2 separate regions of the Homo sapiens genome follow, and region 1 is linked to region 2. Evidence: fine-mapped expression QTL. A gene starts in region 2. The other region holds a variant in brackets. All regions are shown on one strand. Distances are between the middles of the regions. Region 1 overlaps PARD3 (par-3 family cell polarity regulator). Region 2 holds the start of PARD3 (par-3 family cell polarity regulator).

Evidence for each region. PIP is the estimated chance that this variant, and not a neighbour inherited with it, causes the effect. A credible set is the group of variants that fine-mapping cannot tell apart.
Region 1: its variant is the best candidate, but not a certain one, in a credible set for the expression of PARD3 in whole blood (INTERVAL, PIP 0.58).

The regions. Positions count from the first base shown.
Region 1 is chr10:34,752,632-34,760,766 of GRCh38, forward strand. The region is part of intron 1 of PARD3 (par-3 family cell polarity regulator); the gene reads right to left. Among named protein-coding and RNA genes, the nearest start is that of PARD3, 59 kb to the right of the region's middle. The variant C/CT (reference allele first, on the strand shown) is at 3,829.
Region 2 is chr10:34,810,237-34,818,371 of GRCh38, forward strand. It overlaps PARD3 (par-3 family cell polarity regulator), which reads right to left and starts at 5,060. Exons shown (of 25, transcript NM_001184785.2): 1 at 4,640-5,060. The coding sequence starts at 4,759. It overlaps PARD3-DT (PARD3 divergent transcript), which reads left to right and starts at 5,532. Exons shown (of 2, transcript NR_108043.1): 1 at 5,532-5,565; 2 at 5,884-6,186. RefSeq lists silencers at 4,299-4,578, 5,099-5,268, 5,359-5,408.

The DNA of each region.
Region 1 (8,135 bases), 58 kb before region 2:
TACATCAAATACTTGCTGCCTCTCAATTCAATAGAATATCTTTGCAAAATATTCAAGCAAAATGCACTTGCAAAGTGCATGTTGCATGCTATGACTTATATCAGAAGGCGGACGCTATTACCAGCCACACAACTTAAAGTGGAAAAATGGGAATTTAGTAATTAACAGAAGACAGTCCTTTGATTTGGGGTTATTATCTCCTTATGCAGAGACAGGGGCTGTGTGCGAATACCTCAGCTAAAGGCTAGTGTTTCAAGAAAGCCTATCCTTACCCTACCAAAACAATTACAGAGATTGGTCTCAAAGTCTGAGTGGAAATTCTCTTTTTCTAAAACTACCTGTTTTTCCAAATGCTCCATTCATGAGATGTTTTCTAATGGAAGAAAACAGCCAAGGCAGCAGGCTAAAGCCTCCTCCTTAATGCACTTCAGTCATCTCAGCCTGTTGTTTCAGTTCCAAGGACAGGGCCTCAGGATTGGTCTGAAAAGCACCTCGATTCTCCAGCTCCAGCAGGGGTCCTGATTGCTGTGTGTACAAACGAAGTCTCTCTTCTTCATACATGCCCACATGAGGAGCCAAAGGGGATGACACTCTATCCCCAAGGGCACTTGGACTGACAAATGGAAAAGCAAACTAAGAGCTGGGGACACCCTTGGAGAAGCTGGCAAATAAGCTCCAGGCAAACCTTGAAGAACAGGCAGACGACTGGTGCAAGCCCTGAGCCCTGTGTGCCACATCTGACTGCTGGAAGACACCAATTCATTTCGTCCTTACTATCCTCCTACAAAAGACTAGACCACCACAAATGAAGCCTTGGAATACAGCCATTTAACATGGCAAAGGCCCACACAAATATTTCTAAAGACCTTGCCACATGGACAACACAGAAAGTAGCTCATGTTCTGGTGAATAACGCAATTTTGTATTTTGCTGATGCCTGTGAAACCACCCAGTGGGATAAAAATAAATATTTAGCCTACTTATTGATAAAAATATCCTCCCAGTAGCCCATCCCTGGAGGGCATGGCAGAGGGTTGTGTGAATTCTGGACATGCATATGTTTGATTAATAAAATCCAAGAGGACATAGGTTTCAAATCTTCTTGTATCTCTAGACCAGCAAATCCAGCCATGGAGAGAAGCAGAGAATCACAGACAGGAAGAGTATGCCAAGCAAAAGCCGGGGCTGCACAAGCCATCTCAAAGTATGCAGGGAGTCAGGGAAAGGACAAGGGAGAACACACAACCTTAAAACAAAAAGGAGCACACAGTTCTCATCTAGGATACTTTTAAAGTGGCTTCCCCTGAATAAGTGTTTTTTATGATAACGTAGAAAAAACAAAAATAGTCATCGTAGATCAGACAACATATGGAATTCTGGTTTTATTTATTTTTTTTTTTTTAGAGACATCGTCTCCTTGTTGCCCAGGCTGGAGGTGCACTGATGCAGTCATAGCTCACTGCAGCCTCCTGGGTCAGGTGATCCTCTCATCTCAGCCTCCTGAATAGCTGGGACTATAAACACATGCCACCATATGTGGCTAATTTTACTTTTCGTAGAGATGGGATCTTGCTATGTTATCCAGGCTGGATTTGAACTCCTGGCCTCAAGCAATCCTCTTGCCTCAGCCTCCCAAAGTGCTGGGATTACAGGCATGAACCACCATGCCTGGCCTGGAATTTTTTATACTGCTAGATTAATTTATTGAGAAACATACAAGCATCTATTTACCTTACCAATAAAAACACTTTCAAGTCATAAGTAGCTCTTTCTACAACCCGTCTTATGAAACATCACGTGCTTTGTCCTGTACTTTCCCAAATAAGCAAGTTCTTTAAAAGCAAGGATCATATTTTACATTTACCTATCGTGTACACACCCACATGGCTACACAGAAAATACTCAAATACTTTATTAATAGAAAGTCTTTTGTTGCAACAAATCTCTCCTTTTCATATCATAGATACAATTGTTAAAAGCCACTAATTTTTAAATCAGGCAGATTTTCTTTCTTTTACTAACATGTAAAAATTCCAGGCTTCTCTGAACAAATTGGACAGGGTGAAATGAAACTATGCCAACCTCCAAAAACTATTTCAGACTGCGTTGGATTACAGACAATCCCCTGACTTAAACTATACACATACAAATACCTCATCAGAAATAATTCTAAGAATAACCTTCCTCCTGTTAATAAACGACATTTATGAGTAACTAATAACAGAAAGAGACACTTCAGCTAAAGCCATGATGTCAACAGTGATGAGAACATGAGGTGGGGCTTATAAGCAGGGACCTACATCCTTGACCACAAGGACACAAGACTACGTGTAAGAAGTCCTTAAAGCTTATGAGCAAATGGAAAGTTTTGGTCAATGTGAGATTGTCACTTTTCCAAGGTCCTTAAAACAGGCAGAGTGAGCCAAAAATCGACATTTTCAATGAGGCAAAGGATGACTGACAGCTTCAAGAAGAATTGCTGGGCCGAGGCTGGGCGCGGTGGCTCATGCCTGTGATCCCAGCATTTTGGGAGGCTGAGGCGGGCAGATCACTTGAGGTCAGGAGCTCGAGACCAGTCTGGCCAACATGGTGAAACCCCGTCTCTACTAAAAATTAAAAAAAAAAAAAAAATTAGCCGGGCGTGGTGGCATGCACCCGTAATCCCAGCTACTGAGGAGGCTGAGGCAGGAAAATCGCTTGAGCCAGGGAAGCAGAGGTTGCAGTGAGCTGAGATTGCACTGCTACACTCCAGCCTGGGTGACAGGAGAGAAACTCTGTCTCAAAAAAAATAACAGAAAAAGAATTGCTGGGCCGATCACAAGAGCCCAGTGCAAGGGTATGCCCTCCCACAGCAAATCTTCCTTTCATGAGGCTCAACTAGCAACTTGAGAGGTCATAACTTGGTGTCTGTCTATGCTCAGTGCTACTAGGATCTGGATCTGCTTGTAGTTAGCAGATAACCTAAACTGCCCTCTGATGTTGGCATCTGATCAGCTTCTCAGCAGTTTTCTCATCAAATGATTTCCAAGAACAGTCTCTCCTCAAGAATATGGATACTCAAAGATTTGGCATTAAACTGGGAATTGAGATGAGGAATGGGAAAAAGAAAACATTCCATCCTAAGCATATATAACATGCTTTTTTTTGCCATTTTTCCCCTTCTGTCTCAATCAACCAATTACAAAACTAAAATGATAATGACAAATCAACAAGACAGGCATTAATGTTAAGGCCCAAGACAGGCTGTGCTTACCTGCTTCAAAGGCCACCATATCTGAGAATTGTACCTACTGGCCCCACTTGCTCTAGTTCTGGGGACTAACAGCTTCCCAACAACCATGAAGATGCCCATGGTCCTTTACTCTAGTCTCACACAGGAGCACCAAACTTACAATAAGTTGTTAAACCAAACCAGCAGAGAGAGGGGCTAGGATGCTAATCTGGGTTGAAATCACTGTACAGGTTGGCAGTACCCCTCACCCTCCCTCCTCCAATCTCCCCATGGCAAAAAAATGCACCTTTTTTTTTTTTTTTTTTTTTGAGACGGAGTCTTACTCTGCTGCCCAGACTGGAGTGCAGTGGCACGATCTCAGCTCACTGCAAGCTCCACCTCCTGGGTTCACGCCATTCTCCTGCCTCAGCCTCCTGAGTAGCTGGGACTACAGGCACCCGCCACCACACCTGGCTAATTTTTTGTGTTTTTAGTAGAGACGGGGTTTCAGCGTGTTAGCCAGGATGGTCTTGATCTCCTGACCTCATGATCTGCCCGCCTCGGCCTCCCAAAGTGCTGGGATTACAGGCTTGAGCCACCGCGCCCAGCCAATGCAC[C/CT]TTTTTTTTTTTTCTTATAAAAAAAAAAAAAAAAAAAAAGAGTCAGCTCTGTTGCCTAGGCTGTGGCGTAGTGGTAGTCCTGAACGCCTGAGCTCAAGTGATCTTCCTGCCTCAGCCTCAAGTAGCTGGGACTACAGGCATGCACCACCACACTTGACTAGTTTTTTTACTTTTTATAGAGATGGGGTCTCACTACATTGCCCAAACTGGCCTCAAACTGCTAGCATCAAGCAATCCTCCCGCCTCAGCCTCCTTAAGTCTGGGATTACAGGTGTGAGCCACTACACATAATCAAAGCCATTCATCATTTTAAAGACAATCTCTGTCCTTTGAACCAATAAAATAATCACAGTGCAAAGCTCCGAGTTCCTGGTGAACAGGCTGAAAAGACAAAAGGGAACACTGCTAACAGATTTTTCAACCACTGCTTTCTTCTCCGAAAATTTTCTTCTTTTACTTTTCTGCATGAATCTTAGTTTCAAATTTTAGACTCAAATCACCAAAAGGTACTGTCATCCCCCTAAAAAAAGGTTCTAAAGTCATAAACAAGATAAATAACATAATGTCTTGAATATCTGTGAGGAAAAATTTCTCCTTGATTCCTCTGGTAGGTGCAATGTTTTTTATCCAAATCTGTTTTCGAAGTCTATGACAGCATTTTGCATCTTTTTCTTTACTTAGAGCCTTCATTTATATTAGAACTTCCTCACATCTAAAATACATATTTCCACAATATCTGCACAGGAGGTTCAAACACAGTGATCATGACTGAAAATTATAGTTAATTACTAGTCAGCACTAAAAATAAAAAATTTAAGTTCTTATTCTCATCTAACACAGTATCTGGTTAACAGAAAGTTGCAAATAACTGTGAGGTGTGACATGCTACAGCCTGTCCTTCATCTACCTGTCTTTCCTTTTCCACTTCCTGACTCTTAAATTGTCTTTAAGAAAACATGTCCTGGCCGGGTGCGGTGGCTCATGCCTGTAATCCCAACATTTTGGGAGGCCAAGGCAGGCAGATCACTTGAGGCCAGGAGTTCGAGAGCAACCTGGCCAACCAACATGGCAAAACCACATCTCTACTAAAAATACAAAAAAATTAGCCAGGCACGGTGGCTCACGCCTATAAACCCAGCTACTCGGGAGGCTGAGGTGGGAGAATCGCTTGAACAAGGGAGGCAGAGGTTGCAATGAGCCAAGATCGTGCCACTGGGCGAAACCTGTCTCCAAGAAAAAAAAAAAGAAAAGAAAAGAAAAAAGAAGAAAATACATCCTGAAAACCATTGCAAATTCTACTCATGCCAACTAGGACCATGCCCAGGATTCTGGTCCCCAGTTAACCTCATCAGTGACACATTTTTCTGCCGCTGGTCATAAAATTCAGAGTAAACGATGCCCCATTTTGTCCTTGCACTGGAAGGGTTCTGCTGATGATGCTTCAGTATACTATTAGAAAATTCTCCTCTCTTCTAGATAAACCTGCATCTGTAGACATAAAATGTTTGGGCATATAATTTAATTTCCTAAACCAGCTTCCTTATTGGCAGACTTTGATACTCCTAAAAATGCATCTGTTCCTGACCCCTTTGCAAGCACTCAAAGTATTCATTCTGTAATCCAATATTGGCCTAAACTATGAAATGCTAGAAAATGCTATAATTATCTACATGGGCCACTTTAAGAAAACCTCATGCAATCAGGGCTTAGTACTAACATGAGAAAAGCTAGGATAAACATTAGCTGAGTAAAGAAAAAGTTTTAAAATCACATCAACTTTTTTGGAGTATCCAACAATTTCCACATGCCACTGCTATATGTTATTTTACACATTCTTTTTAACAAATCCCTTCAAGAAAGGTAGTATGCTCCCCATTTTACAGATAAGGAAACCCAGGTTCAGGGAGAGGTAAGCAATTTTTCCAAATAACACAGCTAGAAAGTGGCAGAGCATTATTCCAAAGTCTTTCCACTCCACCACACTATGCCTCATAACCATCTGCAGAAGAGCAGCTTTGGAATGAAGGATATTAGGAGAGGCAAGTGAATTGTCACTGGGAAGTCACTGTGTTGCCCACAATTTCCTTCTTCCTCTTATCACGTCACACTGTCTACAGAAGGACACCTCATGATGAGTCATTTTCTAGTTGGGGCACTCAAGCACTAAGGCCCTTCAACTTACAGACAGTGTAATATGGAAATGTGTTTTAATCCTGGAAGCACTGAGTTTGGATTAATTTCACTTTACTCATTCACAGAAGAAAAAAATTCCTGAGAACAGCTCCTACCTAAAATGCAAGAACTAGAAAAGTCCAAGCCCACCCTGTGAAAGGGCACACCTGGAAGCTCCTTAAGTTGGTGACGGATGACAAGGAAGGTTTAACAGCACAGGAAATTCCCCCATGGTATAAATTATACTAGGTGTGACTGAAACGGCTAAATTAGGTCATGATAGATGGTTGTGTCAGACAGAACAGGTTATGCAAACAAAGACTATGACATGGAGGATGATTTTTGCTGCACAAAAAGAATAGAAAGAGGCGGAAGGAAAAAGCTACAGAATCATAGGCACTGAAGATAAATGAAAACTAAAATAAATGAAGACAAAATTAAATGGCTTCCAGTAATCAAAATTCAATACTGAAACTTTTTTAAAAAGAAAAAAAGAAAAAAAAACTCAATACTGAGAATAGATACAACTCAATGAGAATTGGATATGAAGCACTTTTTTTTTTCTAATAGGAACCAAAGAAATATACTACGGCATAGAAAACTGGCTCAGAACAGGGTATGCAACGGATTTTATTCACACGTGTAAATCTTTAAACTTAGGTCCTAAATGGTCCTATCACATTAGAAGAAAAACAATGTACATAATATTTAATCAATGAGTAAGCACTTACTAGATACACTGTGCTCTTGAGAACTGTTTCACAAGTGGCCTTGCTAAAGTAGAATATCACATTTTAGCTAGAACCACCCAAGTATTTCTAAAAGTGACTGGTATCTATTCCACGCATCAACAAAAGGGAAAAAGAAACTTCTAGAACTTTCCACCTCAAACATTTCACTGAAGGATGATGCACATAGCAATCAAACATTCCGATTTTAAGCAAGTAAAAGAGAGCAAAGAAAAAGTATTCATATAAAACAGGAAGTGAGAGGGACAATTTGAGGCAGCCAATTCAACAGCACATCGCCTAAGGCCAAGGCAGAATTATTTTCAGCAGGCAACATGCTACGCACAAGGATTTCAGCCAGCATAACGTGTGTGCTGCGGTAAAAATACTACTGAAGAGGATTCTTGAATAAAGGCACCCACCATGGCATTTCACAAGTCACTTTATTCCACATGTGGAATAAGAGACAAACTGCCTTATGGCTTAATTTTTAATATCATGTGAAAAGCTCTGCACATACTGCTGCGCTTTCTGATTTTTGTCTACTTTATTAGCTGAGAACACTTATGAATCTAAAAATACTTCGTTTTGGGGAGTGGAATTCCTTTATTCGTATTTGCACATGACTTTACCTGTCAAAATCTTTCACAATGCCACTAGGTATATAGGTTTCAACAAGTTTAGTATAATTCCAATCTTAGCCAACTATATTATGTAAGTAATCTCAATGTGGGAGGCAGCCTCTAAAATGATCTCCCTATCTTCTGGTTTTTATGTCTCTGTGTAAACCCCTCCCCAATCTACCTTTTTTTGGCAGGCGGGGTGTGGGGGACAGCGCAGCGGTGTAGAAACAGTATTTATTATGTTGCCCAGGCCGGTCTCCAGCTCCTGGACTCAAGTGATCCTCCCACCTTGGCCTCCAAAAGTGCTGCGATTACAGACATGAGCCATTATGCCTGGTCCCAATCTACTACTTTTTTTGTTTGTTTTGAGACAGGGTCTCACTGTGCCACCCAGGCTGGAGTGCAGTGGTAGGATCTCTGCTCACTGTAACCTCCACCTCCTGGGTTCAAGTGATTCTTGTGCCTCAGCTTCCCAAGTACCTGGGATTACAGGCACCTGCCACCATGCCCGGCTAATTTTTGTATCTTTAATAGAGAAGATCGTTTCACCTTGTTGGCCAGGCTTTCTAGAACTCCTGACCTCAAGTGATCTGCCCGCCTCAGCCTCCCAAAGCGCTGGGATTACAGGCATGTGCACTGTGCCCAGCCCCATTCTACTTCTAATATAATAGCAGAAGTGACAGGATGTTGCTTCCAAATTAGTTTATAAAGAGCATGTGCCTTCTGTTTTAGGCACTCACTGGCTCTCTCTCAGATTAGGAGCTGCATGTGGTGAGGAGTTGAC
Region 2 (8,135 bases):
AAAATACTGCATAAAATTACCTTCAGGCTATGTGTATAAGGTACGTAGGAAACATAAATTCTAACAATACATTAGACTTGGGTTCCATCTTCAACCTATCTCATTATATATACAAAAATATCCCAAAGTCCAGAAAAATCCAAAATACTTGTGTGGTCCCAAGTATTTTGGATAAAGGATGCTCAACCTGTAATAACAACAGGTTGCTATTAAATCACTCTAAAGTGATGTGCTTGGGGACAGAAGCCAGAGGCCCCAATAATCAACCTGTAATCAAGCCAATACCCGCAGCTTTTACTTCCCCAGCCCATACACACATGCAACACACAATTTTGTTCTCCTGATTGTGGTGCTGCACGTCATTCAATCTCACATTCTTACCTATCCTTCAATGAAATTACATGCTGCGTTTTTAAGTAAACAGGAAAAATCCAAGCAGCAATAGTGGGACACCTGGGAAAGTTCCCTGGGTGTAAAACTGCTTGGTGGATAAAACATATTGGTGATTCCATTCATCTTTACGGAGCAGCTAGTATGGGCCGGGCCCAGGACTTTAGAGTTTCCCTCTCATCATCCTGTTTAATACTTACATTAACCCTGCCAGGGAATATTCCACTTGAGATAATGGGGCTCCGTAGGGTTGGTGTACCCAAGGTTAAATGGCCTGTAAACCTAAGTCACCAAACCCAATACAAAGCTCCCCTATACCCAAGGTTAAATGGCTTGTAAACCTAAGTCACCAAACCCAATCCAAAGCTCCCCTACAGGCTGAGAGGAGAGCTATGAGGGAGGTGGGAACAGTGAGCAAAGGGGCTCCAGCACCTCCTTGCCCTCACTTTTGCCCTTCACTCTCTCCTTCCCCTTTTGGTCACTCAGCAACCTTTATTTAGAATGAAATGCTAAGGAATTATCCATCCAAACCTCATCTAAGGTTGCTCAGGTCATCCTCCTAGAACTACTTGTTACCCTGACTCTTAGCTAAACACCACAGTCCTTCCTACTGCACGAAGTCTCAGGGTCTTGCCCTGGCATTCTGTCCTCCTCAGTTTGATCCTGACCCCCTGGGCTGAATGCCTGAATCGCCTTTGTCCATACTGCCTTCCTGGAATGCCCTCCCTTTCACTTATCAGAATCGTAGCAGACATTCTGCAGATTCACACACCTAGACCCCAACTGCAGACCTCAGACCCAGAGCCCATCTGCCCCTGCAGGCAGGTGCCTCACCCAGTTAGCAAGCACTGCCCTATATCAAGGTCAGCCTTCCCACCAACCAAGCCCAGTTCAAATCCTAGTGACTAAATGAGACTCCCACACACACCCCATAATGATAGCACCCACCTCCAAAATCCAGAAGCGATTACTGACTGTATCACAGTGGTGCCAATTAATGCTACCACCTCCTGTTATTTATACTGTTATATATTCTTCCTGTCTCCTAGATTATACTTTTTTTTGAAAATTGCACGAATTCAGTCTTATATTTTTTTCATAGAGCATGACTTTTTATACACAGCAGCCCTTCAACCAACCCCACACAGCGCTGCAGCTCAGCACCATGTCCACCTGGAATCACGCGTGTCAGGTCGCAAGCGCAGAAGAACAGATGCAGACACGGTCCATCCTCCCATCCTGCGCCCTCATGAGAACGGTCCATGTAACGCGGTTCCCAATGTCTAGCACCGCACTGTCCTCAGCGAGGCTCCTAATGCAGATGGGTGGATGAGGATGAACAGCTATTCCCAACCATCAGTGATCACAACCACAAAACCATCTTTCAGGAGAGGAAAAAAGAAATGTCACACATGACTAAGCATAAGCCTTCAAATATCTACTCACTGAGGACATGTCTAGTATTAAATCATGACACTTCACTATCCAGAAAAATTGATTTGTGTAATCTGAAGAGAAAACAGCTCACATGCAATGCCAGAAAATTAGCCCCACCACACCAGAAAATGTTTACTGCAGAGAAAGCCTTGGTGATTTGAGAGTTGGGACCTTTCTCTTTTCCTTTTTATTTTTTATTTTTGGCTTGGTTGGTTATTATCCAAAGCCATAAACATGATCTGCCCACACTTTTCCCCACCAGATGGGAGCTCATCAAGCCACATGTCACCTAGCAACCTAAACACCACTCCACAACTATCCAGCCACCCAATTCTTCACACAGAATTTCTCTTGTTCTATTAGGCAATACGGATAAGGAACAGATAGAGAATAAAAGTTAAAACAGTGTTAAATACATATTAACACTTCCTCATCACTTAATATAGAATGGGAAAAGTAGTAAGAAAGACTAAAAATTAATCTTAATCATTGTCTAGCAATTTCAGAAGAAAAACGAGAAAAAGGAGACCTAGAAGACACTCCAGCTCTGGCAACATTTAAGGGTCAACAATCTTGGGATCCAATGACTGAACTTGGTATACTGCAAAGCCCCCGTTAAAATTCACCTACAGAACTCTAAGTTGTACTTAAAGAGCATGTAAGTGTTGGAACCCCTGACCCATCTCTGACCCTCCCTCTCATCTCCAACTCCCATGTCACTATCACCCTCCCTTCCTTCAGCTCATAGGCCCCTTTTCTCTTTGTGACACCTTCCCAGACACCCTTAAAAAACTGCACTCCCTTTTCTACGCCCTGTGAAACAACCACTGCTAATCGTTAATAAGGACCAGGTCCGTGACCAAGGCCCTGCACTCTAGCCACCCAGCATCCCAGAGGCCACCTCTTCTCCCCATGTCATCACCAGCTCCTTCACCTGGAGGACCCCGCAGCCTCTTGCTCAGCTTCTCACAGCCAGTGGGTCCCTTAGATGTCCAGCACCCAGAACAGTGCCATGGACACAGTCAAAGCTTCAGAATTTCTGTGGAACGAATGCCTGGAACAACTACATTTGAACTACTGCCAAACAGGCAGTTCAGCCTATGTCTATTTTGTGCAGGATGAAACATGGGACACAGTAGGTAAAACAATTTTAATCACATAAAATTAGTAAAGTGAAAGAAAATGTTGACCACCCTCTTCCTATTCAGGAGCCTAGACGTACTGCAGAGTGCATATTACTTTATTTCTCTTTCCTTGCACAATTTGTTTTGTTGGTTTCCAGAGTGCCTGAACAATTTGAGTACTCTTTTGGAACATTTAAAGCATAAACTGTCACACATAAACAACACTTAAAAATGCTAAATGTCCATTTAGATGGTTTTCTTTCCCTTTGTCAGCTTTGCAAGATAAACAGGTGCCCAATTCCCACTAATTTTATTTGATTTTCAATAAAAGAGTTCAACTGTAAGGAACATAACAGAGCTACTAAAGCCAACGTCTTCCATCCTTGTGTCGGGTCTCCAAACGTCCCCCAAAATTATCTTTAAAAGGCCAAATTTATGCTATTTTTTCCAATATATACTAAAAGCAAAACAAAAGTCTAAAAAGCTTTTACTTCTTAATTTCTGAGAGAACTGAAGATGCCACCGGAGTACCCTGTGTACGCTCAATAGGGCTGACCAAGCCACTTTCCAACGTCATTTGCAGCCCCCAAGCCCACAGGGGCCAGGCCACTGTCGGGAACAAATGGGAAATACTGCACCCAAACGAATGCGCTCCCCACCAAAGAGGACTCTACTACAAAGGAAATATATCCCCGGGTGCTTGGGAGAAACTTCAGCGTGGGCTGTTGTCAAACACAGACACAGTCGGTAAAACAATTTAACAAAACGCCTTTTCACTTCTGACACACAGTAGAGGAATGCTGTGAAGTGGAGACAATGTTATCAGTCCACCAGGAAAAAGGGAAATCCACTCAACTCCCAAGTCAGGCCCGGCCCCGCAGCCCAGCCACATGGAACCAGCCCGGGATAGGTAGGAGCTGAGGTCCTCGCAGGAAAACTTTTCATTCCGCGACTCTTCCAAGGTTGTGCTTTCCAGAGCCCAGCAAGTGGGATCAGCTCAGTAAATGCTCGCAAGCGAGTGCCAAGTGCCAGCGGTGGCCCTCCCGGGAACGCCTCCCCGACCCCAAGCCGGCGACTCCCCAAACCCTGCAGCCCCCGGACGCGACGGGCCGCCCCTGCCGGCCCCTACCAGCAGGGGACATGGAGGAAAAGCCCCCCGCCGCTGTTCCGCCCCCGCCCGAGTAAGGGAGAGGAGGCAGAAGGCTCGCAACCCGCCTCTGTCGGAAGGGCAGTCACGAAACTCTCCTCACACCAAAAGTTCCCAGTCCCCGGCCTGTGCCCCCGGGGCCTGGGAGCCGGGAAAGGCCTGGGGCTGGATTTCCCGGCCTGCGCCCCCCGCGCGCTGGCTCGGGGCTTGGCTGGGTCTGCAGACTCCGGGGAGGCGCCCAGGGCCGGCCTATGCGCCGCTGCCCGGCTCGCCCCGCGCTACCGAGGCCGGAGCTCCCGGGCGGAGGGTGAGGGCGGGGGCCGCGGGACCCGGCTGGGTGTCCCAGAGGCTGCGCCCCGGCCCGCGCAGAGAACTTTGGCGCCCGCAGTCCGGGGCGGGGGGCGCCCGCGAGGCCCGACCGGCCGCACTTTCCCTTTCCCCGCCTCCCTGCGCCTCTCCTCCCCCTTCCAGGAAGCGCCATATTGATCCCGGCGCCGTCCCCGCCGCCGCCCCCTCCCCGCCCGCGCCCCCGGCCCCTCACCTTGGCGATGGCCTTCCGGTAGCGGGTCACCGCCTGCTGGATGAGGCTGAAAACTTTCATGTGGCCGTCCCCGCACGGCACGACCACCCGGGTCCGTCCGAAGCACACGGTCACTTTCATGCCGCCGCCGCCGCGGGCGGGCCCGCGCCCCTCGCCGAGCGCAGCCGGAGCAGCCGAGGCCGGGACCGAGGACGCTGGGCGCGGAGGAGCCGCTGGGGACTCGGGCGCGCGGGCGGCTAGGGGCGCGGGCAGGCGGCGGCGACGCCGGGGGGCCGCTCAGCTCGCATGCCCGGCCCGGCCGCCCTCGCCTCGCCTCGCTTCGCCCGGGGCTTGCCTCGCCTCTCCCCGCCGCGGCGCCCGCAGCCTCCGGCCACCTGTTCGGCGTCGCGGCGCGCTCGCCGGCGGCTGCCCGGGGCTGTGTGGCGCTGGCGCTCGCTCGGGGCCGCTGGGGGAGGGGACGGCGGGAGGGGAGGGGAGGGGAGGGGAGGGGAGGGGGAGGAGCAGGGCAGGGCACACAACACCGCGCACATGCGGCAGGGGGAGGCGCGGCCGGCTACCCGCGCGGGGCGGAGCGCAGGACCGCAGCTCGCGCCCCCGCCACCGCCCTCGGGGGCCGACCTCCTTCCCTCCTTCCCTCCCTCCCTCCCTCCCTCCGGGGGCGCGGGACCCCTCGCCCCAGTGCCAGCACGGGCAGGCGGCCGTCTGCCCCCACCAGCCCTGGCCCAGGCGCCCCCCAGCCCCCTTCACCCCGCCCGCCCAGCACCCTGCAGGGCTGCGTCGCCCCTCCTCGGGGACGCCCCTTCCACGCCTCCAGAAGTCTCCACGGAGCCCCCCTTCCCCTTTCTTTGTCACTTTTAATCCCATTCCTCGAACTGGAGGGTTTTGGGTGCAGGCGCTCCCGGGGAAAGCAGTTTGTGCTCAGTGCGGTGAGTCCCCTCCTCACCGCCCCGGAGGCTCCAGCCCGAGCCTCTCCGCCCGCGGGGACTCGAGCCTGCAGCTTGCTCGGCTGGGTTTCTGCCCTGCCCGCTCCCTAGCTCTGCTGCAGGGCCGGCAGCGGCAGTTCTGCCTGAAACGCAAGAATTAATAGTCTGCTCTGGGGAGACAGTGGGGAAGCCGTGAGCGACCGGGCCTTTTCCAGAGGCCACTATTTACCTTGAAGTTTCCTGTTGACCCTCTGCTGACCCACCCGCTTAAATAGATTAGAACTTAAACATCGCAATTCTGATACATTTATTTCTTTGAAGTTCTGCAGCATAAGGAATCCTAACGCGAATCCGTGAACAGTCTATTCCGACGGCGCAGAGAAATCTCACGCGGGGATCCCCACGATGTGCCGGCGCTTAACGCAGACGCCCGAACCCAGGGGAAGGCTGCGACTCCGCGATGAGTGACATGCGGGCTTGAGACGTTCTAAAGGAACGTGGACCGAGTTAGGGAACGTAACTGAAGCTCATTTTGTCTTAGTTATGGACTATGAGTCCTTAATAAATGTATGTCATTATGTTTAAAGAATGACAAATGTCTGCAAAGAGTGGTCCCTGTCCCAAGCCCTTTCCAGACTATGTGAAATTCTTTTTTGCCAGTTGTTTCCAAGACACGTGAAAGCAATCAAGCTCCCCTGGGTTGGCGCAGAACTTGAGCACTTAAGAGCTGGAAGAGCTGGCGATCGACCATCCATCCCACTCCACCTCCAATCTTAAAACAAGGAAACAAGACACGAGGTTCGTCCGCTTGCCACACTCCCTGCGCTTTGCAGCACCGCAGCTGCCCCAGCATAGTGCAGTTTCTCCTAGGAAACATTGCCCTTCCTCTCCTCTCCCAGCCCTGGACCACCACTTTCCACCACCTGTCCCAGCAAATCAGTGCAGTGGTGTTAGCCCCATCTTACTCCAGGACATTGACCCAGGGCCAAAGTCACTTGCCCAAGGCGGCAGAGAAAGCTCAAGGCAGACCCAGAAATAGTCTAGGTTTCCCTCCTTCCACTCAGCCATGGGAAAGGCTCCTCCTACTGCTGTTTGGCTGCAGCACTAGACATTTCTAGCCAGTAATTAAGTTTGTGACAACGATGACAACAACTGTTGATGTGGGTTTTTTGCTTCTTACATAGATACTTGGATCCACAACAACAATTACTGATAATTATAGGTGTTGTTTCTGTTTTCATGCATTGGGAGAGTATACTACTAGTTTAGAATGTATACTACTTTATTTTATTTTGTGTTTTTTACATTTATTTATGTATTTATTTTTATTTATTTATTTATTTATTTATTTTGAGACCAAGTCTCGCTCTGTTGCGCAGGCTGGAGCGCAGTGGCGTGATTTCGGCTCAGTGCAACCTCCGCCTTCTGGATTCAAATGATTCTCCTGCCTCCGCCTCCCGAGTAGCTGGGATTATAGGTGCCCGCCACCACGCCCAGCTAATTATTGTATTTTCAGTTAGAGACAGGGTCTCACCATGCTGGCCAGGCTGGTCAATCCGCCCGCCTCAGCCTCCCAAAGTGCTGGGATTGCAGCGTGAGCCACCGCGCGGCAGAGAATGTATACTAGTTTTGATGCTACACTAGTTCAGAGGGGTATACTAGCTTGAGTATAATAAATTAGAGTGGGGCTTTCTCAAAATAATTCTAATCGAAAGTCATTTTTCAGTAATAACCAGAGTACATAGGACATCACACTGATCTAGGTTCAGATCCATATTTGGCCACTTACTAGTGCCTTAGACACAACAGTCACTCTTTCTCCAGCCCGTTTTATCAGCTGAAAAGTAGAGAAGTAGAGCTTATCATATCCATATCCATCTCATAGATCTCATAGGTTATGAGTCAGTCTTTCTTTTTTTTTGAGATAGAGTCTTGCTCTGTTGTTCAGGCTAAAGGGCAATGGCACAATCTTAGCTCACTGCTGCCTCAGACTCCCAGGCTCAAGCAATCCTTCCTCAGCCTCTAGAGCAGCTAAGACTACAGACAAATACCACTATGCCCAGCTAATTTTTAAATTGTTTGTAGAGATAAGGTCTCACTATGTGGCCCAGGCTGGTCTTGAACTCCTGTCCTCAAGCGATTCTCCCGCTTCAGCCTCCCATAGTGCTGGGATTACAGGTGTGAGCCACGGCACCTGGTCATAAGTTATGAATGTTAAATAAAATAATGTATCAGAAAACAGTACGGCTGGGTATGGTGGCTCACGCCTGTAATCCCAGCATTTTGGGAGGCCGAAGTGGGCAGATACCTGAGCTCGGGAGTTCGAGACCAGCCTGACCAACATGGAGAAACCCCGTCTCTACTAAAAATACAAAATTAGCCGGGCATGGTGGCACATGCCTGTAATCCCAGCTACTCGGGAGGCTGAAGCAGGAGAATCGCTTGAACCCAGGAGGCCGAGGTTGCGGTGAGCCGAGGGCAACAAGAATGAAACTCTGTCTCAAAAGAAAAAAAAAAAAACAGTACATGCTGCCACGCTGCCACATGGGAATGTATAGCGTAGTACAGTCCAG